Linked DNA regions of Homo sapiens. The protein of the gene in region 2 interacts with the protein of the main gene of each other region in a pairwise test. Each region holds a gene or a part of one and is shown on either strand. Other genes may lie near its edges.

What was found.
Region 1: the proteins of PECAM1 (region 2) and RBM17 interact in binary tests that used the Homo sapiens proteins (3 or more experiments, as listed by UniProt).
Region 3: the proteins of PECAM1 (region 2) and NPFFR1 interact in binary tests that used the Homo sapiens proteins (3 or more experiments, as listed by UniProt).
Region 4: the proteins of PECAM1 (region 2) and KIAA0408 interact in binary tests that used the Homo sapiens proteins (3 or more experiments, as listed by UniProt).
Region 5: the proteins of PECAM1 (region 2) and LASP1 interact in binary tests that used the Homo sapiens proteins (3 or more experiments, as listed by UniProt).
Region 6: the proteins of PECAM1 (region 2) and KLRG1 interact in binary tests that used the Homo sapiens proteins (3 or more experiments, as listed by UniProt).
Region 7: the proteins of PECAM1 (region 2) and TMC6 interact in binary tests that used the Homo sapiens proteins (3 or more experiments, as listed by UniProt).

The regions. Positions count from the first base shown.
Region 1 is NC_000010.11:6,099,034-6,102,533, reverse strand, and holds part of RBM17 (splicing factor 45), read right to left. Parts: intron 1,264-3,500; coding exon 1,147-1,263; intron 1-1,146. UniProt on the Homo sapiens protein: Splice factor that binds to the single-stranded 3'AG at the exon/intron border and promotes its utilization in the second catalytic step. Involved in the regulation of alternative splicing and the utilization of cryptic splice sites.
Region 2 is NC_000017.11:64,380,861-64,384,360, forward strand, and holds part of PECAM1 (platelet endothelial cell adhesion molecule precursor), read right to left. Parts: intron 1-3,500. UniProt on the Homo sapiens protein: Cell adhesion molecule which is required for leukocyte transendothelial migration (TEM) under most inflammatory conditions.
Region 3 is NC_000010.11:70,263,505-70,267,004, forward strand, and holds part of NPFFR1 (neuropeptide FF receptor 1), read right to left. Parts: intron 2,888-3,500; coding exon 2,573-2,887; intron 1-2,572. UniProt on the Homo sapiens protein: Receptor for NPAF (A-18-F-amide) and NPFF (F-8-F-amide) neuropeptides, also known as morphine-modulating peptides. Can also be activated by a variety of naturally occurring or synthetic FMRF-amide like ligands.
Region 4 is NC_000006.12:127,445,890-127,449,389, forward strand, and holds part of KIAA0408 (uncharacterized protein KIAA0408), read right to left. Parts: intron 1,852-3,500; coding exon 519-1,851; intron 1-518.
Region 5 is NC_000017.11:38,918,558-38,922,057, reverse strand, and holds the end of LASP1 (LIM and SH3 domain protein 1), read right to left. Parts: intron 3,454-3,500; coding exon 3,280-3,453; 3' UTR 288-3,279; downstream 1-287. UniProt on the Homo sapiens protein: Plays an important role in the regulation of dynamic actin-based, cytoskeletal activities.
Region 6 is NC_000012.12:8,988,258-8,992,345, reverse strand, and holds the start of KLRG1 (killer cell lectin-like receptor subfamily G member 1), read right to left. Parts: upstream 2,801-4,088; 5' UTR 2,711-2,800; coding exon 2,629-2,710; intron 2,135-2,628; exon of another isoform or gene 2,001-2,134; intron 141-2,000; coding exon 36-140; intron 1-35. UniProt on the Homo sapiens protein: Plays an inhibitory role on natural killer (NK) cells and T-cell functions upon binding to their non-MHC ligands.
Region 7 is NC_000017.11:78,111,756-78,115,255, forward strand, and holds part of TMC6 (transmembrane channel-like protein 6), read right to left. Parts: intron 1,870-3,500; coding exon 1,793-1,869; intron 1,457-1,792; coding exon 1,393-1,456; 3' UTR 1-1,392. UniProt on the Homo sapiens protein: Acts as a regulatory protein involved in the regulation of numerous cellular processes. Together with its homolog TMC8/EVER2, forms a complex with CIB1 in lymphocytes and keratynocytes where TMC6 and TMC8 stabilize CIB1 and reciprocally.

The DNA.
Region 1 (3,500 bases), on a different chromosome or scaffold from region 2:
TTATGGGGGAAAATGCTCAATGACTAGGAATCAGCAAAAAAACACCTCCACCATGTGGTGCTTCCCCTCCAGAAGAACTACCAGCCCTCAGGAACAGCACCCGCTCCCCTCAGAAAAGGACAACTCAAGGGTAAGCTGCAGCCACAGACTGGCCCAGAACATAAGCAGGACAGGCAGGAGACGGAGCCCAACCCAGAACAGTGACGTGAAACAGATGGGCAGGAGTGTGCCCTTTGCCCCAGCCTGATGCAGCCCTTCCCACAGGTGGTGGGGAGGACAGGCGCGCCTTGCTAAGAAACTGTCTCGATAGCACTATTATTAATCTTTTGGTCATTTTTCATCAAGCGGTTTTGTGCAATTCATGATGCTGTTTAAATGACCACAGTCATTATTTGAACGCCATCTGTGGAAAGATAAATGTATACTTAAATTGTGGGTATAATTTTAACTAGTTTATTCACTCATTTTACCTCATTTTGTCTAGTTTTAACTATGATTTTGAGTTATCCTTTTCCAGATCTTCTTCATCCTCAATAACCCAATTTATAGAGTTGACCACATGTTTGTTTTTAAGCATATGTAAAATCACTGGAATCATACAGGTTAGGGTGGTAGAAGTGGGTTTTAAAACCCCTTTCTCTGTTTTAATCCACAATAAATCAGTAAGTACTAACACTGTTTATGATAGCAAAAAATAGAAACAACCCATATATCCAGCATTAAAGGAATTAAATTATAGTCCATCTATATACAAGGGAATATAGTGAAGCCATAAACGTGATCATACAGTCCTGTATTTTTTGACAGAGTCACAACGTATTAAGTAAGAAAAGCAAGTTAGCAGAAGGTGGAGTAGGCACAGGATGGAAAAATATTACGTTTTTCACTTCCGGATTGTATGACTGAAGGTAATTTGTTTTTCTTTCTGCGTATCTCTAGTTTCTGATTTTTCTACAACAAACTATTTAATTTCAAATAGATACATTTTAAAATTGGCAAAACAGAAGTAAAAATTAGGTGGAAAATGATACTAACTTGGTTTCAAAGGCCCACCAAGGAGGCCATCTGTTAAGAGTAACTCATATGCAAAATAAGCCACATGGGAACAGAGACACGTATCAAGCTCACAGGCAGGCGCGGGCTTACCTTCAGCCCAGCTGCTACATGCGGTGGAGTGTCCACAATTTGCCGGTCATCTGAGGAGCCACCTCGCTTCAGGTCAATGACTGGGGCGAGGACTGTACTTTGTTTCGTCCTTTGGCTCTAAAATCATCAAAAACAAGGAAAACATACTGAAGTTTCAAATTAAAATTCACACTGTTTGCAACAAAGATTTTCTTTCTGGTCCCTGCAACAAACCTTTGAGATATGAGAAAACCATAATCTCAAAACAACAGCCTTTTAATTTATTACTATAATCATATATTATTTTCTTTCAGCTTTTTCAAAAACATGAGATTTTCTCCATTTCTGTGAAAGGTTTACAGTAAACTTAGTCACTTTCAAAAGATACTTGGGGATAAGAGTTTTGTTCCCTCCTACTAGGATATAGAATCCTTCCTATCTCCTTTATTATGAATCTACAAAAAAAAGTTTTTAAAAGAAAATCATTTCTATACATTCAATTATTGTTAATGTTCTACCATACTTCTTGCCCTTACACCTGTATTTTTTGCTAGACCATTTGAAAGAAAGTTGGAGACATCATGACACTTCACCCCAATCTCCTGAAACCGTGGACATTCTCCTGTCAGATTACTACCCCTAATAAAATCACTAATTCCCATGTCATTTCCCATCCAGTTCACATTCAGATTCTCCAAGATATCCCAAAAATGTCCTTTAAACAGCTGATTTTTTTTTTGAACCAGGATCCTACCAAAGTTCCTGAAATGCTTTTGGTTTTTAAGTGTCTTGATTAAGAACAGTCCCTCTTCCCCATCATCATCATCACCATCATCTTCATCTCCTCTTCCTTTTTTTCCTCTGACACTATCTTGTAAAATGCTGTTTGTTCTAGATCTGTCTAATAACTACCTGGTTATTTAGTTGAGCTTGTTCCTCTATGCCTTGTAATTCCTGAAACCTGGAGGTTAAAGGCCTGATCGAATTCAGGGTAAAGCTTTTAGGCAGGAACACTTCCCAGGTGAGGCAGTGTGCCCCTTCCTGCAACACACAGCAGGCACACTGCGTCAGGCCGTCTAACAGCAATGCTAAGGTTGATCATATGGGTATGGTGGTAACCATTAGATCTTTTGATTAGAAAGGTTTAATTTTTCTCTTTTGCAATTTAAAGTGTTACAAATTTTCATTACCACTATAAAAGGCACAAAATAAGCCTTCATCTCTCTTGAATATAACAATACTTATAAATTTAAGCAAACAAAATTTAATCCAATTAACAACTCACAAAGTAAATACGAAAGTTTACAGAACGGAAGGGGGATTTATTAGAATCACATATTTTCTTTCTTTCTTTTTTTTTGAGATGGAGTCTTGCTCTGTCACCAGGCTGGAGTTCGATCTCGGCTCACTGCAACCTCCGCCTCCCAGGTTGAAGCAACTCTCCTGTCTCAGCCTCCAGAGTAGCTGGGATTACAGATGCACGCCACCACACCGGGCTAATATTTGTATTTTTATTAGAGATAAGGTTTCACCATGTTGGTCAGGCTGGTCTCAAACTCCTGACCTCAGGTGATCCACCCGCCTTGGCCTCCCAAAGTGCTGGGATTACAGGTGTGAGCCACCACGCCCAGCCAGAATCACATATTTTCTATTATTATTATTTTCTATTCAATATAGAGTTGGCCCTCTGTATCTACAGGTTCCACATCTAACCCCAGGCTGAAAATATTAAGAAAATAAAACAATACAACAAAAAATACAAATAAAAAAACCAATACGGTATAACAACTTTTTACACAGCATTTACATTGTGTTAGGTATTGCAAGCAATCCACAGATGATTTAAAATATGGGAGGATGTGTGTTAGTTACGTGCAAATACCACACCATTTTATATAAGGGACTTGGGCACGCTTGGATTTTGGTATGGGCAGGGGGGTCCTGGAACCAATCCCCTGTGGACACCAAGAAACAACTGTATTTTTTCAAATGGAGATACAAATGAAACCACAGCTTCAAATTTTCTCTACCAAATAAATACCTTTACAGGTTTGGCTAGGCCAATCTAGTATTCTGAGTAACTAAACAGCCTAAGAGAATGCAATCTTCACTTCCCTTAAAAAAAAAAACCCACAAAACTAACTGTACATAGCAATCTCAAAAGTTTTATAAAGTTAGTAGAAATAACTTCACAAGCTACCTCAAGTTTTAAAAATCTATATGAGGCCGGGCACGGTGGCTCACACCTGCATCTTCCCTGCAAAGCAAAAGTTACATGAAATCTACAAAGATTTTATAAATGTACTTTTAAAAAAAATTAAAGAGAAAAACGAGGTTTTGCTAACCCTCCTTACATTTGGAATGAAACCTTGTTT
Region 2 (3,500 bases):
CCTGTAATCCCAGCTACTTGGGAGGCTGAGGCAGGGGAATCACTTGAACCTGGGAGGCACAGGTTGCAGTAAGTTGAGATCACAACACTGCACTGGGCGACAGAATAAGACTCTGTCTGCAAAAACACAAACAAACAAACGAAAAAGAAAGGTGGCTGGATATAAGATTAATATTTTACAAGTCAGCATAGTGGTCATCTCTGGAGGGAGGGGCTATGGGGTAGGGAGAAGCACAGATGCAAGCTATTAAATGGTCTTTTGGGATGTTGGTCTGGGATGTTGATGAGATATTGTCCCTAATTTCACAAAGTGTTCCAACAGCACCAGGAAACACTGTGTTTATGCTGAACAACTGATTCATTTCTATCTTGTGGATTCTGAGAATGTTCTAATGGACCTTGTTCCTCTTTTTGCTTTGATTGTTAACACACAGCAAAAATTTCACCTCTGCTTCTAGCAATCTTTGGGATGCGTTTGTGCTAAATGGGCCATAGCTTTATTTCCCTGCCTTTATTTTTCTCTCATCCTGATTTCCTCATTAATTGTATCTCATTGAACAATACATAATTTTTATAAGTGGTCCCAAGTCATTTTTTTGGAATAAGAAAAAAGTTAGTTAGCTAGCTGGCCAGAGATACTGGCAGAACCTGTCCTTTCCCTCTCTTTTAACAAAGTTAGGCCTTTGTTGGGTAATTTAAAATTTAATCTTCAATTTTAAAACGAGTACTACAATTTGCGCCTGCTGCTATATTCTGAGCAATTAATTTAACAACAACAACGACAACAAAAATGGTGTCTGACCAGTCCATGAGATGAAACAAGGTGACGGTTTAAATTCAAGTCATTTCCCACAGCATTACTCTTTGGAACTCCCTTTTTTGTCTTTATATGCAACTTACAAGCTCCTGATTTAAGAAGCCTGCTGGATGAGCTCTCGACACACAACTTTCTTTGGACCAGCCGGGCACGGTGGTTTATGCCTGTAATCCCAGCACTTTGGGAGGCCGAGGCGGGTGGATCACTTGAGGTCAGGAGTTCAAGACCAGCCTGGCCAACATGGTGAAACCTCATCTCTACTAAAAATACAAAATTAGCCGGGTGTGGTGGTGGGCGCCTGTAATCCCAGCTACTTGGGAGACTGAGGCAGGAGAACTGCTTGAACCTGGGAGGCAGAGGTTGCAGTGAGCCAAGGTCATGCCATTGCACTCCAGCCTGGGAAATAAGAGCAAAACTCCATCTCAAAAAAACCTTTTTTTCCTTTGGACCATATTAATTTCTCTGCACTCCTCAATTAATATAGTTCCCTCCCAACCACTCTCTTCCCTCTCAGAGACAGTTAGGTCTCCTTCCATTACCTCTTCAGTACTTCCTCCTTCATTTTAAGCTATGCTGTGTATTCCAGTGACTCAACCAGGAGATACTAAAGAGCAGAAATCAAGTGCACGGAGCCAGACCTGGGCCAAATCTCATCTCTGCTACTAACAAAGCTGTGTGACCTTTGGCAAGTCCCTAAATTTCTCTGAGCCTCAGTTTGCTTATCCATACAATAGGCACAAGGAATGTAAGTATAAATGAGAACCTGAGTTTAATTACTTAAAGTAGAGTTCCTGGCACCTATAAAGTGCTTGAGAAATGTTAGCTAGATTCTTCCAGTTACAGAAATAAAGTCGACTCTTTTTTTATTTTTTAATTTTAATTTTTTAGAGATGGGGTCTTACTATGTTGTCCAGGCTATTCTTAAACGCCTGGCCTCAAGCAATCATCCCGCCTCAGCCTCCCCAAGTGCTGGGATTACAGGCATGAGCTGAAAATCAACTATTCAGAGCTTTAAAGCTGTGTCTCCACTACATGTTTCTAGGGATTTTTTTTTTTTTCAAATAAAAACCATATTTAAGGCTGGGCGTGGTGGCTCATGCCTGTAATCCCAGAACTTTGGGAGGCTGAGCTGGGCAGATCACTTGAGGTCAGGAGTTCGAGACCAGCCTCCTGGCTAACATGGTGAAACCCCATCTCTATTAAAGATACAAAAACTAGCCAGGCGTGGTGGCAGTTGCCTGTAATCCCATCTACTCGGGAGGCTGAGGCAGAAGAATCACTTGAACCTGGGAGGTGGATATTGCAGTGAGCCGAGATTGCACCACTGCACTCCAGCCTGGGCAACAAAGATAGACTCCATCTCAAAAAAAATAAACAAAATAAAAAGCATATTAAACATTTTCAGGTTAATTTAAAGCGACTTCTCCAGCCTCCCAGTTTTGCTCACTCCACTGCGTGCTCTCCACACGAGTCATTCATCTGCTCTCCTGTTTACTGAACGAGCTGCCCATCCCTGGCTGGTTATGCCCTAGACCAGCAGACAGTGCTGGGTACAGAAGGGAGTCAGACATACCAGATTCAAACCCGTGATCCCACAGTGCTTAGCTGGGTGATCTCGGGAGTTATTTAACCTCTCTGGGCCACCACGTCTCTGCCTACGAAGTAGGAACATGAATACCTGCCTTCTCTGGTATCTTTAACCTAAACAGTGACTGCGCCAAAGTGGCTGAGGGCACAGAAGGGGCCGTGTATATATTGCCCAGTGCCTGGCCTCTGGTTGACATTCTCTGCCTTCTTCCTTAGCACCATTCATAGCAAACATTTAAGGGGGTTTTTCTGTGCCAAGCACTGTCCCCCATACTGGGGGTTCAGAGAACAGTGAGGCTGGCAGTGTCTGCCCTTGGAGAGCTCATTCTGCACTCCACAACTCTTCCTACTCTGGGCCTTCCAGCCTCAGCACAACCCTTGCGTGAGCCTCCCACTAACCAGTCCTAGTTCATTTGATTTTTATAAAAGCCCTCCCTTTTTAAAAAACAATTTTAAAGCAAATTTGGCTAATGCACCAAGCAGTGGTTTTTCCAGTAGGGATGGTACCCACTAGCATGGGGCCCGTCCACCATCTTGTTTTTCTAAGCAACTCTAACACACATTATCTGCTCAAATAAACAAACTCGGCAGGGTGTGGCGGCTCACACCTGTAATCCCAGCTCTTTGGGAGGCCTAGGTCGGTGGATCACCTGAGGTCAAGAGTTCGAGACCCGCTGGCCAACATGGTGAAACCTAGCCTTTACTAAAAATACAAAAATTAGCCGGGCATGGTAGCGGGCACTTGTCATCCCAGCTACTCAGGAGGCTGAGGCAGGAGAATCACTTGAATCCAGGAGGTAGAGGTTGCAGTGAGCCAAGATCACATCATTGCACTCCAGCCTGAGCAATAGAGCAAAAACTCCATCTCAGAAAATAAATAAATTAACAATAAACGAACTCAATGGATGCACTGGCAGGAACACCACATTCCCATGGCTAGCTCGAACAGACAAGGGAGAAGAGAGGGCAGGATGGAAAAAAGAAAAGCATTTTATAAACTCTGTTGAGATATGAGTCTCAGCTCTTCATCTTAACACAAATATCATCGACAAAACAACAAAAACAGTGACCTAGTTTTTACCGCCACAACCACCACC
Region 3 (3,500 bases), on a different chromosome or scaffold from region 2:
CCTTGTCATCCACCCGCCTTGGCCTCCCAAAGTGCTGGGATTACAGGCATGAGCCACCGCGCCCGGCCATTCACAGCACATTTTCTGAGAATGCATACAAAAGACAGAAATATAACAGAATGGCTGCCTATGGGTCAGAGAAGAGATGTAGAGTGGAATAGGTATATAGAAGGAAACAAATAAACAAAAGAAGAGCTTTGCAACAGAGTGAAATCACATAGTGCCATGAACTGTAAACTGAATGAATGATTCAACCTTCTGTATGTGAGTTAAAAAAAAAACAAAACCAACACAAAACAAAACAAAAAGAAAGAAAGGAAGAAAAAGCTGGGCATGGTGCCTCACTCCTGTAATCCCAGCACTTTGGGAGGCTGAGGCGGGCAGATGGCTTGAACCCAGGAGTTTGAGACAAGCCTGGGTAACATGACAAAACTCCATCTCTACAAAAAATAGAAAAATTAGCCATTGGTGGTGGCACATGCCTGTAGTCCCAGGACCTGGGCCCAGGCAGGTTGAGACTGCAGTAAGCCATGATCGTGCACTGCGCTCCAGCCTGGATGACAGAGTGAGACTGTCTCAAAAAAAAGAGGCCGGTGTGGTGGTTCATGCCTGTAATCCCAGCACTTTGGGAGGCCGAGGCAGGCAGGTCACTTGAGATCAAGAGTTCAAAACCAGACTGGCTAACATGGTGAAACCCCATCTCTACTAAAAATACAAAAATTAGCTGGGTGTGGTGGCAGAAGCCTGTAATCCTAGCCACTCGGGAGGCTGAGGCAGGAGAATCACTTCAACCTGGGAGGCGGAGGTTGCAGTGAGCCGAGATCCCAGCACTGCATTCCAGCCCGGGTGACAGTGAGACTCCAAAAAAAAAAAAAAAAAAAAAAAAGAAAGAAAAAATAGTGAAGCTGTGTGAAGTTTTATTTAATTGCAGAAGATTCTATTAGAAACAACATAAATACAAATCAAAATAAATTGTAGTACATCCATACAATGGAATTCTAAGCAGTTGGTGAAAATAGTGAGAAACTCTTTTATTTATTAATATGGGATAACAACATGTAAGTTTATTTTAATGAATCTTTTTTACAGCATACATGGTATATTTTTAAGTGGGGTGTGGTGGGAAGTAAAAGTACGGGACTGGCTGTTTGGAACCTTAGCATGTCCTCAATTTGCTTGCACTCGCATAAAATAGTGTTTGAAAGAGACACAAGAAACTGGCAACACTGGTTGCCTCCCAGGAGGGAGAAGAGCTGGGAGGCCAGAGGACAGGGGCGGAAGGGAGATTTTTCACTGGAGAATTTTGGTAGTTTTTGACTATTGAATCATCTGAATGTTTTATGTATTCAAACAATATTTTAAATATGAGTGTATGAAAAAGATGGGGAGACGCCACCTTAACCAGCTAGTGACCTCATTATATCACTGTTGACTGGTATGCATGTATTTATGTGTATGCATGTGTGCATCTCTGCACATGTGTGCCTGAGTACACGTGTGTGTGTCTATGTGTTGGAAAGGAGAGGAATGCAGTTTATGTTCAGCATTGGCAAAGGAAGCTGGGACTCAGCAGTGGGTAACGGTTCCACCAGACAGAGCTGGTACTGTGGAGGGGAGCTGACTCTGCACTGGCTCCACATCCTGGGTCCTAGAACCTACAGAAACGTGGGCTGTGGCTCCCTCTGCCCCGAGTCAGTGAAGTCACTCTGAATAGGGCTGTCCAGGCTCTGGATCCTGAGGACCAGTGAGCTGCTGGGAGCTCTGAGCTCAGAATCTGCAGGCTCAGACCTCTAGGGGTCTCCATATCTCTGAAAACCAGTCCCTCACCTGGAGTCTCAGGTTGGTGGAAACTTGATTCTAAAACAAGAAAGGCCAGTCGCATGAGAGAGTAGAGAGTAGATGGCACTGTTCTGACATCTGCAGGATGCACCGGCAGGAATTTAGAGGTCAAGTGGTCCACTGAGTGGCCGGCCAGTCCCTGCTTAGACACTCCAAGGGACAGAGAGCTCATTACTTACAGGCAGGACTCTCTTCTGTGCCCTGCTCAATTTCCAGCTCAAATGAGTGGAGTTTTCGTTCCCGATTCAGAGGAAACCTGCCTCCCTTCCACTTCTCCCCACTGGCTCTAATTCTGCCCATGCGAGCTCCGTGAGAGAGTGGGACTGAATGGTATAATACAATAATTAGAAGTATGGGTGTGAGAATGTTGACCTTGACACCTATTAGCTGTGTAACTACAGACCAGTTTCTTAACCACTCCGAGCATGTTTCCTCTTCCATAAAATGGGGAGGACCATAAACTCTACTTCACTGGATTGTTGTGAGGATGAATTAAGATAATGCATGAGAAGTAACATCATGCCAGGCACAAAGAAAACAGGAAATTCATTAAATCTCTTATTTCTAGTCTAACTCTTCAGCCCCAAGACTGTCTTGAGAGTTCGAGACCACGGCATGGCCAAGAGGCCAGCCCAGCAATGATATCTGTCTTCTAAGCTTTGATTTCCAGCCTTATCTGAGAAGTTGAAGTGGGGGGTAGGGGACACTCCTGCTGCCAACTGCCCGCACTCACCAGTGATGAGGTTGTCCACAAGGGTGGTGGGCATGCAGAAGATGCCCACCAGCAGGTCACTGACAGCCAGGTTGAGGATGAACATGTTGGTGACAGTATGCATGTGCCGGTTCTTGAGCACGATGAAACAGACCAGGGTGTTGCCCACCATGCAGAGCAGGAAGATGAGCGCATAGGCCACAATGAACATGGCCGCCACAGGGGAGGTGTGCTGATAGTAGGAGGAGAAGGTGAGGTTTGTAGCCGGGGTGGCCTCAGTGTTAGTCCCATTCTGACTTAGGGGCCAACTGCTGTTGGGAGGCTGGGAGGGCTCCCCTAGGACCAAAGGAATATATTGGTCAGGACCTTAGGCAAAGAAGAGATTACCGATTTCTCACCACTAATGAGACCCTCTGTGTGCCAAACCTTAACCATGCCCTGGTCCCCCAAGCATGTCCCCAGCTCCAGTTGCAACTTGATGCACTGATCCAAGACTTTCAGCCTACAACCACTCAAACCCTGGTCTTGTACTTCATGCCCTGTCTTGCCCATAACTCATTCTCCAATGTTGGTTTTTCTTTATTAACTCCCCCATCCCATTTAGGTTCCAACTTTCTTGGCCCTCCTGTGTGCCCCAGAGGCTAACCTCTAAGTTCTGCATTGCCCTGGTTCCCTTGTCTTCTGGCTTCTAGCTGGGTTCAGCCAATGCCAGGCCCTGAAGGAGATGGGAGGGCAGGAGCAGAGAGAGAGGTCAGGGTGTTTGTCTTCTGATTCCCTTCCTGCCTGGCCCAATTCTTTCAGCAGCTGTTTTTCCCTATAGCCACAGCCTGCTCCTATTGGGTGAGTCCCCTTTCATGGCTCTAGCCCTCACCTGACTACAGTAACACTCTTCCCTCTCCTTGCACTCAATGGTAACAGCTTCCTGTGGTTGTGAGTCCCTGGGTGCTTC
Region 4 (3,500 bases), on a different chromosome or scaffold from region 2:
AAGGACTCTATTAGGCACTGTTTTAAATGATGTGTATTTCCCATATTCATATTAATGTGATTAATCCTATGAGAAAGAACATGAGTCAAATGCTGAGAATGACTGAACCAATCATAGTTAATAACTGAAAAATGAAAACGATTTTAAAAATATTTTCCATACACTTAAAAAAGAACCTTTAAAATAATGAAATTCTATAAATTGAGTAATGTCCATTCTGAGTATTTTTTCAAGAAAGAGCAAACATTTGATCTTCTTCAGGTTCCTAAATCCACTTACTGTATTTATGTTATCCCATTTCAGAATTTTTCAAAAGTTACAATGTACTATTCTCAGTGTTAAAAACTACACCTTCAAGGTTCATGTTGAGTTATATTTATTTACAAACAGGGTCAAGAGGCTAAGAAGAGTCCAAAACTTGTGCCCTCATTCTATTTATATGAATTGGACATATAAACATGATTCAGAGCCATTGCTAATATGGATGCTACCAAATTATGTTATATTTGCTTTCTCACCTCTGTTATCTTTTTCGGATCTATTCCTTGCTTCACTTCCTGTCCCCCCCACACAGCTGTCTTTTGCTGAAACTGTTGTTCCATTTGGAGCATTTCTAAATGCTGACTTAATGTGGCACCACCACTGACATCAGAATTACATTTGGTCCAATTATCCTGGAAGCACTTAGAATTTTGCAATGCAGACTCTGTTGCTGTCTCATAGGTTTTCAGCAGCTTTTCCACAACACCATAATTTGACCTGGGATCAGCTGACCTCGGACGGCCAGACAAATTACTCGGTCTCCAGTCATGCTCGTGGAGCATATTTCGATAACTGCGAGGACTTAGGTGTCCCTGCATTTGTCTTACTAGGCCTGTTGTGGATTTCTTGGTGGGATTATCAGGCACATTTTCCATGGGCACAGGCATGTGGGCATTGGTTTTCCAAATACCGGACACATCGTTACTTTGTGATATGCTACCTGTGTGAGTAGATGAGGTATCACAGGGCTTGAGATCCTCCGATGATTTTGAGCAGCTGTGATTTTGCTGTATTGCCTGACAATTTCTATCTGTTCTAAATACAGTTCTGTTAAATTCATCAGTCTTTGCTGCCAGCTTCTCATTCCTTGTAGTCCTTTCAAAGCCACAACTGAAATTTCTAAGTGGGCTACTGCTCTCTGCTACTGAGGAGCTACAGTCATTACTTACATGAAGATCAGGATGAGATTTAGCAGGGTGATCTGGGATCACCATTTCATATTTTGGATTACTGGGGGTAGAGCAGGTTTTCTGAAACCACGAAGTAGAGGGGCTCCTTTTTGCACCTATCCCAATGTCACATGACCACATGCTAAGTCCAACATCTTCATTACTTGGAGGCTTGCTATCTATTTTGACTTCTGGTACCAAAGAGGAAAAGATGATACCATCTTTCGAAGTTTTCCCTTCATTTGGATACAACATAGACATCTCTTGTTGTCTCAAAGGGAAGTGAGGGTTGTAATTCCTTTTACTTCGACCCTCATGGGGCACCCAGCTGTTGTGGTCTAACCTTTCCTTCCATCTTTCATAGGCTTGTTCAGAATCCGAGCTGGGAAAATTTCGAGAGGTGCTTCTTGGAGGAGGAACTGGTGGAGTTTCATTTCTTTTTAAATCGATTGTATCAATTCCACATTTTTTCGTAGAATTGCTCTGGAGCACATTGGTACAGCTCAGATTCTTCCTGTTTTTCTGTTTTTCTTTTTCTAAACTGATTGGAAGAATGCACTGGTCATTGTTGATCATGGGGTCCCCATGAGGTATATTAGTTACATTTGGCATTTCCTGGAGAAAAGAATCTGACTTCATCCTAAACAATGATAAAACATGGTGTATTGGTTATAACTTTATTTAGAATAAGCTCTCAAAAGCAAACATAGCTAAAGCAATGAGTTTCTGCTATAAGAAAAGGATTCACAACTGCCTCATACATCATTTTTACATAAATCTCCCAGTCAAAAACTTCAAGTCCTTTTATGGTGGAATGAAGTCTACCTCTCAGTGTTATATTCAATGCTCTACACACTCTGACTCAAACTCTTTCCAAACTTGTCTCTCATTTTCACTATTACCTGAGACTTCACCTACCCTCAGATTAAACTATGTAGTCTCCTGGGTTTCTGCTACTGGCATTTCTCTCTCTGTAGCTTTTATCTTGCCATTCCCTTACCTTCTCTCTGCCTGCTGAATTCTTATTCATTATGTAATGTGAGCTCAAGTTCTTCTCCTTGAATTTGAAATAACATTTTAAGTAGTCAGATACAAATCTGAATAAAAGTGCAATGAGATATGAGTAATTCCAAATGGAAAGTGTCATTTGGTCTTGAAAAAAAGTAAAAATTTTTTGGATGACTTGAGTAAAAGGCATATAGGATTGAAGTAAAAGGCAAAAGGATTAAATACTATGGCTACTCGAAGGAAAATGAGTACTTTGATATGGATTAATTATAAAGCAGAGTGGGGAGGATAATGAAAAATGAGAGAGAAACATTAGGTTATGTCAAATTGTAATGTCTTTGAATTACAAATATCTTGAACCTTGTTCTAAAGTCCATGGGGTGACAATAAGAACATTATATTAGGTGTGATTTGTAAAAGAAAATTGGCAAGTAAGTCTTTTCTGAGTTATATTAAATAAAAAACTAAATATCGCAATTCAAACTTAATCACACTGATAAATATAAATCATATTTATACCTCTTCAAATTATAAAAGATTATGGGATAGCTTACAATAAAATGTGGATAAATACCTATTAACAGAGAATAGAAAAGCTAAATAGGCAAATAGAGGACAAAGTTATGTTTAAAACATGATTGGCTAAGAAAATCTATTGCAAGTCAGCACAAAAATTCTTTCTGAGCTTCCTAACAACTAATGAAAAATAAGGGAATGTAGGAAGCCTACTGACCCACGAGGAGAGATAAATGTTGATCCTAGAATAATCCATCTTTACTAAACTTGTAGAGAATTCCAATATATTTGTTAATTTGGCTAAAACTTACTGTTATTAAGTATATACTGTTTCCAAATGGAAACAGCATTTTTTGTGGCACGCGTACATGTGTACATATTTACAATATGTTGTTCTGAAAAGTATGTAGGCCTCCATTACATAAACACGAATTGAAGCAAAATAAAGTGCTCTTAAGCATTAAATATTTTAGTAGAACATGATTATATAAGCAAAACGCCACACTGTTAATTCTGACATCGTTTAATGATACGTTTAACTGAATTAGCCCAGTTGTACACTTTCATTGTCCAAATGCTCAGAATGAGAAAGAACTACTTTAGAGGTTACTTACTGATTTTTTATGGAGGGTCTACCTTAATTAGACACGAAAAAGAGTAAAGTATTACTAATAGATTACAAAGAGAATTGGAAGATTTGCTTTAAGAATTAGTGAACAGAGAAATATACAATTACAGTTTCTGGCCTGGCGTGGTGGCTCACGC
Region 5 (3,500 bases), about 25 Mb from region 2:
GTTGGTGGGGAGTTCTCAGCAAGGAGGAAGTAGGGGCCAAGGGCCTGACAGACAGCAGCAAACTCCCCCTTGGCATCCAGACAAGTCATTCTCTCCCCGAGGGGCAGCAGAGGTCCCAGGAGGGCCACAGGCCAGTGCCCCCAAGCAGACAGGACACACACACACACACACACACAGTGGCACCTTACAGCTAGACACACACACACACAGCAGCACCTTACAGCTAGAGACACACACCCACACACAGACACACACAACAGCAGCTCAGAGCCAGAGAGGAAACCAAGTCCGCAGGTAAAAATTATACTTTTATTTGAGTCACCAGGAGAAAGATTCACTTGTGGTTCAAGTCAAATGTTCAGAATCATAACAGGCCAGAAAGGTTTGATCCCGAGCACAAGCCCACGAGGGAGGGGACCAAAACAGACCAAAATGAGACAACAACCCCATATAAAAAGATGAACTGGCGGCTTCACACACTCACACACATACACATACACACGGATGAAATGTTTGGACAGAGGCAAATTTCACGTGGTCATTTCTGTTTCTTTTTAAATACAGGTTTGTAGGGTGGTATTTTGTTTTTTCCAGCTATAAAAAAAGGCCCAAAAGTGCATGTGTGAGGGGGGAAAGGCAGAAATTAAGCAATAAAGTCATTTTCCCTGGAGGGACATGAGAGGGAGAAAACAGGAGGCAGTGCTGGGAGAACGCACTTTCCTCACCACTGGGCTTCTTGTTATTCTTAGTATTGGTCCACAAAAGTTATATTCACATTCTAGCTTTGATGCCTCTTTCCTGGGATTAAATGAGCTGAAAGACCTCTGTGAACTGTAGAGAAGACCAGGGGCTCAGCCCAGCCCAGCCCAGCCCCTCAGGGCTCTGTGCTCTTCTAGGGATGGATGGTTTTGGTAAAGAACAGACGCCCAGCAGCCCCCGGTCACTCAGCACCAGTGTGACAGTCCCTCCTCTCTCTGGGGGTGTGTAAGAAAACGGCCCCTATTTTTAGGACAGGAAGAGTAGAGGGAGGGCCTGCAGCAAGATTCCATGACTGGCTTGCCTTATCTGGGAAGGAGAATTAAGCTGAGTGAAAACAGGCTGCTTCTTGCTGCTCCTCCCTTCCACTCACCACTCTCCCAAACTCAGGTCCTCTAAGGGGATGTGTCCCTGACCTTTGGTCCCCAAATCCACATTGTGCTTTGAGATCAAGAGGAAACAGAATGCACCAGCGCCACCCAAGACTCCCAAGAGATTCTCTGCCTCCCCGAGCCCCCAAATCGCCCAATATAAGATATTCCACTTGCCTCCACCTAGGCTGGGGCCAGAAAGGAAAAGGGATGGGTCAGGCAGGGCCTCCCCACCCACAGTCTTTTCCTCAACCTCTCATTCGGGGCAAACATCCCCAAATCAATTAACAAGCAGTTGACAAAAACACCCATGATGACTGATTGTTGAACAGGCCAATACCTTCAGGTCCTGCCCCTCACCTGTGGGTACAAGTGTGCCAAGGGACAAGAGGCCAATGGCAGGGCCTGGTTGGGCTCAGGATGAAAATGGGATGGGGACTCCCAGAGGGTGGCAAGAAAACCAGAGATGAATCAAGTGAGGCCAGGGTTGTCACAGCCACCCATGAGCAGAGAGCAGGAACTGGATATAGCACCGTCTTTCCCTCCCCATCCCCGAGGCTGTGCTTCCAGTTTTGCAGCCCTGGGACCCTCTTTCTTGCTTCAAGGGAGCTTTATGTAAGTGAGGGGGAGGTCTAGGGGAAGAGCCCCCGAGGGAGACACCCACAGGGTGACACTTCTGCCACCCTATTCTGTAGCCCCAGACAGAGATGGGGAAACATATGCCTGGAGTGACAGAGCCTTCCTCCACCGCTTAGCCCCAGCAGGCTGCAGACCCTATGGCAGCCCCAACTCCACACCAACCTCTTACCTTCCACCCTGCACACTGCAAAGGGCAGATTGGTGGGCTTCCTCCACTCAGAGATGGGGGGAAGGAGGAATTTCATTCCAAAGAAAACCTAAGGAACTTCTCTGCCCCAGGAGCCCTCCCCTCTCACTGTGGGTTCTGAGGAAACTCTCAGGGGAAGACAGCTCTTCATACCCTCACATAACCCCACCCACACACAGGCCCAGAGACACCTACAGACACACCCCCGCCCCATCTCTCACACTCACACTCACACACTTGCGTGTCAGACACCTGCAGACATACATGCTCCTGCCTCCGCACACCAGGTCTTGGAGATTTAGTGGTCCCTGCTGACTTTGTGCAGCTCCAAGTCCACTTGGCATTGGGCTGGGGAGGGGAGGTCATGGAAGGCTCTGAGACATCTTCCCATGAGGAGCAGGGAGGAGCGGCCACCTAACCCAGATCCTGGGGGCTGAGGGAGGCTGAAGACCAAAAGGTCCTGAGGCACCCTTGCCCTACACTTCGGGACCATGGCTTCCAGCCTAGGAGGCAGGCAAGGGTCCCTGGAGACTGGGGGTGGGCGTGGGGAAAGGGGCTGCGGAAGAGAACTCCTTGTTCCCCTCCTTCCGGTAGCTGTCCCTAAAATTAAGAAAGGCAAGAACCTGACCCAAGCTGTGCTTCCTCGGGAGCTCTTTGCCCGCTGCAGGTCTGCGTGGGCAGGAGGGCAAAATCACAGTGTGCGAAGGAACGCGCGGGGAGGGGATGAATTCGCCCCACAGCAGGAACCCCATTCTCCTGTTGTTGCCCCTGAGGAGGGAGGTAGGGAGAGAGACCCCAGGTGGGCAGAGCCCCCTCTTTGAGAAAGAGAGGTAGAGCCCATCCCACTGGTCCCTACACAGCGGCAGAGTCCCCATCGCCATCCCAGGAACCAAGAAGTGGATCCCACTCTGGGGAATGTAGGGAGCCCCTGACCTGGGGTCCTGGCAGTCAGGCTCACCCCAGCCCTGGAATGTGTGGGTATGTGAGGAGCTGGGCAGGAGGATGTGAGGGGAGAGAACAGAGGGGCAGGTGAGGCCCACAGGCCAACAGGTCTCCCATTCCAGCCCTGCCTCCCCCAGAGAGGCCCATGCCCGTTCCATCCAGAGAGAAAACCAAGAAGTCGATCAAGGGGGAAGCCTGCCAGAGGAGGGAGCCCGCAGAAGTGGCAGAAGAAGGCTTCAGTTGGCAAAAGAAGCTGGAAGAGGGGTAGGAATCACAAGCTGTCGCAGGTTTTAAAAAACAGAGACACTGAAGAATGGACGGGTCACGCCCAGGACGGATGCGATGCCGTGGAATGTGCTGAAGACAGATGGGGGCGCTGCGGGTTCAGATGGCCTCCACGTAGTTGGCCGGCAGCATCCCCGTGTCGCCGGTGCGCTCCACCGTCCCGTACATCCAGCCGTCGTCGATCTGCTGCACGTTGACGATGGTGTCCCCGTCCTGGAAGGAGACCTCGTCCTCGTCGGCGGCGCTGTAGTCATACACCGCGCGGTACCGCTTCTGTGGGGGAAGTGTGGTCAGCCTAGGGCCCTGCATGCCGGCTCACC
Region 6 (4,088 bases), on a different chromosome or scaffold from region 2:
ATGAAAGATTAATTTTGGTTTAAGTTTGCACTTACCCTGGCACAGGATCCACTGGTATAGCAGCACACTCAGAAGAACTGCAGTCAGAAGCCCCAAAGCTATTGCCACAAGGCAAGAACAAGAAGGCCTGGAAGAGGAAGCTGCAACAACAGAGTCAAAGCACAATCCTGAGTCAGATGACAGGTTGAAAGAAAAGAGAAAGTCAGGGAAGGATATCGCATCTTAAAGCAATTTGGCCTAGTGGGAACTGAGATCCAGGCCATAAAGATTCCTTTTCTAGATGTGTCAGGAACTTGCTCTAAAGTCTAAGGTAACCACCAACACCTGTATCAAAGAACTTACTATATTTATCAAGATAAAGAATGCTTTTTTCCTTTGAAACTGTGACTTACACTGTCTCATACTTAGGTGGTGAGAATACAAATTGGTACCTCTTTGGAGGACAATTGGGCAATATCTACCAAAACGGCAAAGGCATGTACCCTTTGACCTAGAAATTTCTCCTTAAGAAATTTTTCCTACAGATACTCGCGGGTGCAAAATGTCATATTTATTCGTGGCAGCAATATTTGTAGGAGGAGAAGACTGAATACAATCTACATTCTATCAGTAAAAGGCCAGTCAAATACATTTTTGATATATCCATAAAGTGAATATATAGCTTCTAATAAAAACTGGCTTTTTTTTTAACTGATATGGAATATTTTGTAAGATATATAGTCAAGACAAAGAAACATTCTGCAGAACAGGATATACAAATATCTCTGCAAGCACACTCAAGAATCTGATAACATTGTTTGCCTCTGGAATGGAAAAAACAGTCACTGGAGACAAAATAGGAAAAAGACTTTTTACCCTATTTTCTTTTGTACCTTTTGAATTTTGAACCATGTAAACATATTATCTACTCGAAATTGAAATACATAAAATTTAAATAAAAATAATCTACATTTCAGAAGTGCTTTGTAAACTGTCGTTATTAAAAGAGCAGTAAGTTTAAGTTGATGCCAAGTTTAAGAATAGGACACTACTTCATGTTAGCTGTGTTGCATACAACCGAAATCTAAATTTTAAATTTGAAAAATGGAAGTATTTTCAGCAAATCTTTATTTTAAAATCAAAGGTATCTCATAGTGCAATAGTGTAGAAATTACGTGTAACGAGCAAAACTCTGTGAAGTAAGATGATATTTAACTTCTAATTTTGATTCCTTTGCTTAATAACATTTAATTAGGAAATTAAACTTGCCTATTTGGGCTTCAATTTTCTGATTAAATTTTAGATAAATTATTCTATATATGTGTGTATCTATGGAGTATTCTGAACTTCTTAAAGAAAAAAATTCATAATGAGAGATGCCTTCATAAATAGAGAATTCTGCATAATAAATATTTGGACTGATGAATCCAAAAGCATTAAGATTTCTAGAAAAACTTTTAAAAATACATTTGCATCACAGGAGAACATTTAATGAAATACACAAATGTTCATTTTTATGTTATGCTAAATTTTAAAAAGGTATCAAACCATAATTGAATTTGTGTAACCACAAGCCAATTCAAGAAGTAAAGTAAATTTTTAAAATTTACTTTAAGTATATATTGAAAGCCTCTAAATAGTTCCAACTAGGTTCCAATTTATCACCAGTTGTGTGTGTGACCTTGAACATATACTTTGAGATATGCATTACTTCTAACGTAATATTTCTATTCCTTAGAAATTAACATAGATACAATTCAAAAATAGGAAAAGGTTACACAAATAAAGATATCCAATGCTATATAATTTATGGTAATAGAAATAGGTCTAAATATCCCAAGTATACTAGAATGATTTAGCAAATTAAGGCAACACTCTCAAAAGACATTAAAAATTATAATAGTAAAACTATGTAGTAAAAAGAGAGAAAGCTTAGGGAACTACCCTAAAGAATACACCTTGTGGGAGTTCACTGCCTACGATACAAAATCAAGGATTAATTTTGGCATTTACACTATTACCTGTCTGTCTCAGATAATATTCTCTCAGGGCTCTATGTAAAAATGGCTCTTTTGCCTTCAAATCCTCAGTCACAGAGACTATTATCTGTAGTTTCTTGATACTTTTTCTTCCCTGTCACCATTCTAGTGCAACACTGTGAAGTTAAAAAAAAAAAACAAAACTAGATATGTAAATCAGTTTCTTTCCTGACAAAAATCTTACTCGTATCCACCAGCAAAACTATTGGTGTCCTCCTCATTCCATAGTCAGAAAAACAGCCATACCTAGAATTTAAACAGCTGGTCCAAGGTTACTCCGAATATAACTAAAGAGATAAAATTCTCCCAACAAAGTTCCCGCTTTAGCTAAGAGCAAGAAGGAATAACGGCAATGCCCTAAGTTGGGTTTCTAAGATGCGATCAAAGAAGTGAACAGTTAGAAAAGAGTTTACCTGAGACCTAAGATCAGATCCTGTACCATACACCAACTTTTCATATTCCAACTCTGGACTTTAAACTGAACCAAAAGTATTTCCTCAAATTATCCTCAATTCTTCTGCACCCTCTGCTTTAAACTTATTCTACTCCCCATTCATCCATAGCCTACTGTTGCTATGCATCGTCTTCCATGCTACCTTGGTTAACTCACATTTTTGCTGTGGTCCATAGTCATTCTGGGCTTGGGTTGCCGTAGGCAACTCTAACATGGAATAAATAACACTGTCAGTCATCTTCAGCTAAGATCTTTCACATGCAGTTGAGAGAGTTAAATTATAGAAGTGTGAAGGGATATGTATCAGTGAGGAAACAGCCCAATCTCTAAACTGCTAGCAGGAAACTTCACAAAAGCAGAAGTAATTTTTCAGGAAATGATTCAAATTTGGGGGCTGCCTATAGAAATTAATATTGTAAGTTGCTATTTTTTTGCCCCATGACACTGTAGATGCTCACTAAATATATATTAAATTGATTCCCCATCTCACCTAATTCTGTTGAGCAAGGAAAAATTGCTCTCAAGTCCAGCAATTTCAGTTATGGAAACTAAAATAAAAGTGAGAGTGGTTACTAGCTATGAATTTCTCTCGGAATTTTTTCTCTGCTTTGTTTCCTTCTGAAAAAGTAGATGTATGCCAAATGAGACTGACTTCATCATTTCTTGGAACTTTTGGGCAGTGATAAGCAATAACGAAATGGACTGTTGGGTGCATATGCCTGGAATCACGGGAGAAATAGACTATTACCCAGATATATTTTGTGAATATGACATGACCACATCTTCCCCAAAACCTTGTCCAAATTGTGTGATGGTCTTTACCCTTCACAGTATCAGAAATTCCATTATATTTTTTCTCTTTGTTGTCTTATTTTTTTTATTATTATACTTCATGCAAAGATAACTAAAAAGAAGAGCAAAGTAAACAAATACATTCTAACATCTTAGTAATTTGTTTTTAGTAGGTGAAAAGTTAATAAAAAGTTAGAGTAGGCCAGGTGTGGTGGCTCACGCCTGTAATCCCAGCACTTTGGGAGGCCAAGGAGGGTGGATCACCTGAGGTCAGGAATTCAAGACCAGCCTGGCCAACATGGTGAAACCCCGTCTCTACTAAAAATACAAAAAAATTAGCTGGGTGTGGTGGTGGGGGCTGTAATCTCAGCTGCTCAGGAGGCTGAGGCAGGAGAATGGCTTGAAACCGGGAGGCGGAGGTTGCAGCGAGCCGAGACTGCACCATTGTACTCTATCTAGCCTGGGCAACAAGAGTGAAACTCCGTCTAAAAAAAACAAAAGTTAAAGTAAGGAAACAGAAAGAGTATTGAAACTCTTAAGAGTGGATAAGATCATCAAGATAGACTGCATAAGGATAAAAGAAGAGAAACAGGGAGTGCTTTATATTAATTTGTTTTATATTAATAAAAACAAATATATTTCTGCTTCCAGCCATGACAGAATGGCATTAGACTTACTCTCCAATCAAAATACAACACATGGCAAGACACACAAGGCAGCTATTTTCAGGAACACACAGGCAGCATTGTGATCCTTGAGAGAATACAAAGGTGAGTGCAATGATCACCCTAGCTTTCTATCTAGGACCACTTTCTAGTACAGAG
Region 7 (3,500 bases), about 14 Mb from region 2:
TGACCCTTTTCTGGGCCCATCGCTCTTTGACCATTTCCCCACCTGGGTTCATTCCCCCAATCCCAAGCGCAGCTCCTGCAGGCCTGGAGCCCTGGGCTGTGACAGGCTGGTCCCCACAAGCCTGGAACCCTGCGCCGTGACGGGCTGGTCCCCACAGACCTGGAGCACTGGGGTCATGACGGGCTGGTCCCCGCAGGCCTGGAGCACTGGGGTCATGACGGGCTGGTTCCCGCAGGCCTGGAGCACAGGCTGACGGGCTGGTCCCCACAGACCTGGAGCACTGGGGTCATGACGGGCTGGTCCCCGCAGGCCTGGAGCACAGGCTGACGGGCTGGTCCCCGCAGGCCTGGAGCACTGAGGCTGACGGGCTGGTTCCTGCAGGCCTGGAGCACAGGCTGACGGGCTGGTCCCCACAGACCTGGAGCACTGGGGTCATGACGGGCTGGTCCCCGCAGGCCTGGAGAACTGAGGCTGACGGGCTGGTCCCCGCAGGCCTGGAGCCCTGGGCTGTGATGGGCTGGTCCCCGCAGACCTGGAGCCCTGGGCTGTCATGGGCTGGTCCCTGCAGACCTGGAGCACGGGGTCATGACGGGCTGGTCCCCGAATCCCTGTGCCCACCCCCCACAGCCTACGGTTTTCGGTATCCCACGGGCTCCTCAAACTCAGCCCAGTCAGACCCAGGATCACCACCCCCCAGCCAGCTGCTGGCAGCCAGAAGCAGGGGGCCAGCCCCACCTCACCAAGCCCTGTTCGCCTCCAAGCACAGGTGCTGGTTACCTATGCCTGGGAGGCAACTGTCCCCACAACTCATTTGCAACTGATATGTCTCCCCTCCAAGTCCCTCTCTAAATTTGTCTCCTGCTCCAGTAGATGCTACAGCATCACCCAATGGTTGACGCATCGCTCTGGTCACAATCCGTGCCTGCTCGGCTCACTTGTGCAGGTGTAAGCCCCTCCTGGGCGCGAGTTCAGGCTGGTCAAAGGCAGCAAGCGAATCAAGCCCTGGCGCGGTCCAGCCCCTGCCATCTGGGGCTTGGCCAGCAGAGGGCGCCCCCACTCCAGCTGAGGTTCCCAGGACCCAGACCTGCGCCTGGAGGTGGCCCCAGGGCAGCGGGAAGCAGGCCCCGGGTGTGGTCACAGACACAGAGCCCCAAGGGACAAGCCCATTTGCAAAACCCCTTTAATCAGAATAAATAGAGTCCCAGGCAGGGCAGAGTTCATTGGGGATGCCCAAGCCGGATTCACCCACCCTTCCAGCTCCAGCCTAGGCGCAGCTGCGGCTTTCGAGAGGCGAAACTGTCTTCCTTGTCCTGGTGTCCCAGCAGGGTCACTGGGAGGCAACAGTGTGGTCTCAGGGTGCTGGGCGGGCCCGTGAGGCCCATCGCCGTCCCCCTAGGCATCCTGTTCATCTGTGAGCAGGGCAGGGGGTGCCGCAGCCTCCTCGGTTGTCCCAACCCTGCCAGAAAGAGACATCACTGAGGGGACCCCATAAACATCAACATCCCTGCAACCTGGCTGGGCGCAGCCAAGGCCCGGCGAGGGACAGGCCAGACGCCCCACAGCCTTTCTCCTGAGATGTATTTTAGGTCCCTGTCAAAATGGCCAGGCTCCGGAGGCCAGAGAAGGCTCTAGAGAGAGTGAAGGTGGGCGCCGGGGGGGAGATTTTTGTAGGTCAAAAGCGGTCAAGTGTCAGCAATGTCGTGGTGTAGCCCCAGTGGCAGCCCTACTGTCCAGCCCTGGCCCCTCTCCCCTCCAGGCTCAGAGTGTCCCCAATCCCTCCACGGACCCTCACCTGCTCCTCTCCTCCCTCTCCTTCCTCTCGTAGATGGAGTGAAGCTTGTTGATTAAGAAGATTTTGTCCTCACCCTCCTAGAAAGGCCAGAACACAAAGGGGAGGAGAAATCATCCATCAGCCCATCCAGAGCCATCCTGTTCCAAACTGCATTTGAGGGAAAACTCACGAGGTGTATTCAACATCGCAAGCAGCAAAAACATAAAAGAAAAGGTGAAAGGGCCACCAAACAAGGACAAGGAAAAACCAAGAGCCAGGAAGTGGGCGTATGTGTGGATCTAAGCTTCCTAGTGGCCAAAGTGAAAAGGGAAATGTAATCAGCAGCCCAGAGCCAGCCTGACTCAATTTAAAACCAGCCCTGCCACGTACTGGCTCTGCCTTGGGTTACTAACTCTGTGACCTCAGTGGCAGCATCTGTAAAGGGGGATAATAACACAAGGCACAGGGTTTACATTAGTTTCCTGCTGCTGTCGTAACGAACTGTCATCAACTTCGTGGCTTAAAACACCACCGGTTTCTCAACTTTCAGTTCTGGAAGTGAGAAGTCCAAAATGAGTCTCACTGGGCTCCAGTCAAGCATGATCAGGGCTACATTCCTCCCGGAGGCTTCGGGGGAGAATCCTCTTCCTCGCCTTTTCCAACTTCTAGAGGCCCCTGGCTCTCAGCCCTTTCCTCCACTTCAAAGCCAGCAGTGGCTGCTCAAGTCCTGCTCACGTGGCACCACTCTGACCCTGACACTCCGGCCTCTGTTTTTCACCTCTAAGGACCCTGAGATCACGCTGGGCCACCACGATAATCTAGGGCCATCTCCTATCCAAAGTCAGCTGACTGGCAACTTTAATTCTACCTGCAATCGTAATTCCCCAGCCACGCAACGTAACGTATTCACAGGCTCCATCCAGTCTTAGGACGGGGACATCTTTGGGGCCAGTACTGGACTGACCCAGGGCTCTTTCGACAATGAAATGTGACAAGCAGAGGGGGCACTTAGCAAAGGATCTGGTGCACCGAAACACTGATCATCAGTGCCTGGGTCAGACCGGGATTCCCCGCCCGGAGCTTCACACAGAGAACAGGAGTTCTGTCAAGAGCCACACGGATTGGCTCTGGGCACCTGGCAACCTGGCTCAGCCTAGGAGGACCACTTAGAATACCTTCAAGGAGAGACCATGGGCCCCTTAAGCAACAACCTAAGTAGCTTCTATCGAGTTGCTGATGAGTATGGAGGGGCTGTGCACTTGAGCCATGCCGACCTGCACGGGGAAAACTCAGACCGACAGCCCCAAAGACGGGTCAGAGCTCGGCCTTGGGTAGACACCACAGCCAGCATCCGCCTGGAGAAAGGTCCTTCCCATCCCAGAGCAACGGTGGGTAGAGCTGGGATTCTCCCAGCACCACTCTGCATTCCCCGCCCGGACCCACCTGGCCCTACCTGGCCCCTGGGGGCTCTGAAATGCCACCCAGTAGGGCAGGAGCCATTCCCCACTTCCAATATCTACAGCCAGACAACCACCGCAGCCGAGATGCCAGGCTTTCAGCTCTATGTGGTGAAACGGGAAAGGCAGGAGATGGGACAGTGTGTACTACAGTGTTTACAACCCAAGCAATGTGGGAGCCGTCCCATGAGTGCTTGGGACGAGCTGGGACGAGCTGCCTGGAGCCCTGGATCCTGGCACCAACTAGCCAGCAGCAGGGTCACATGGCTGCC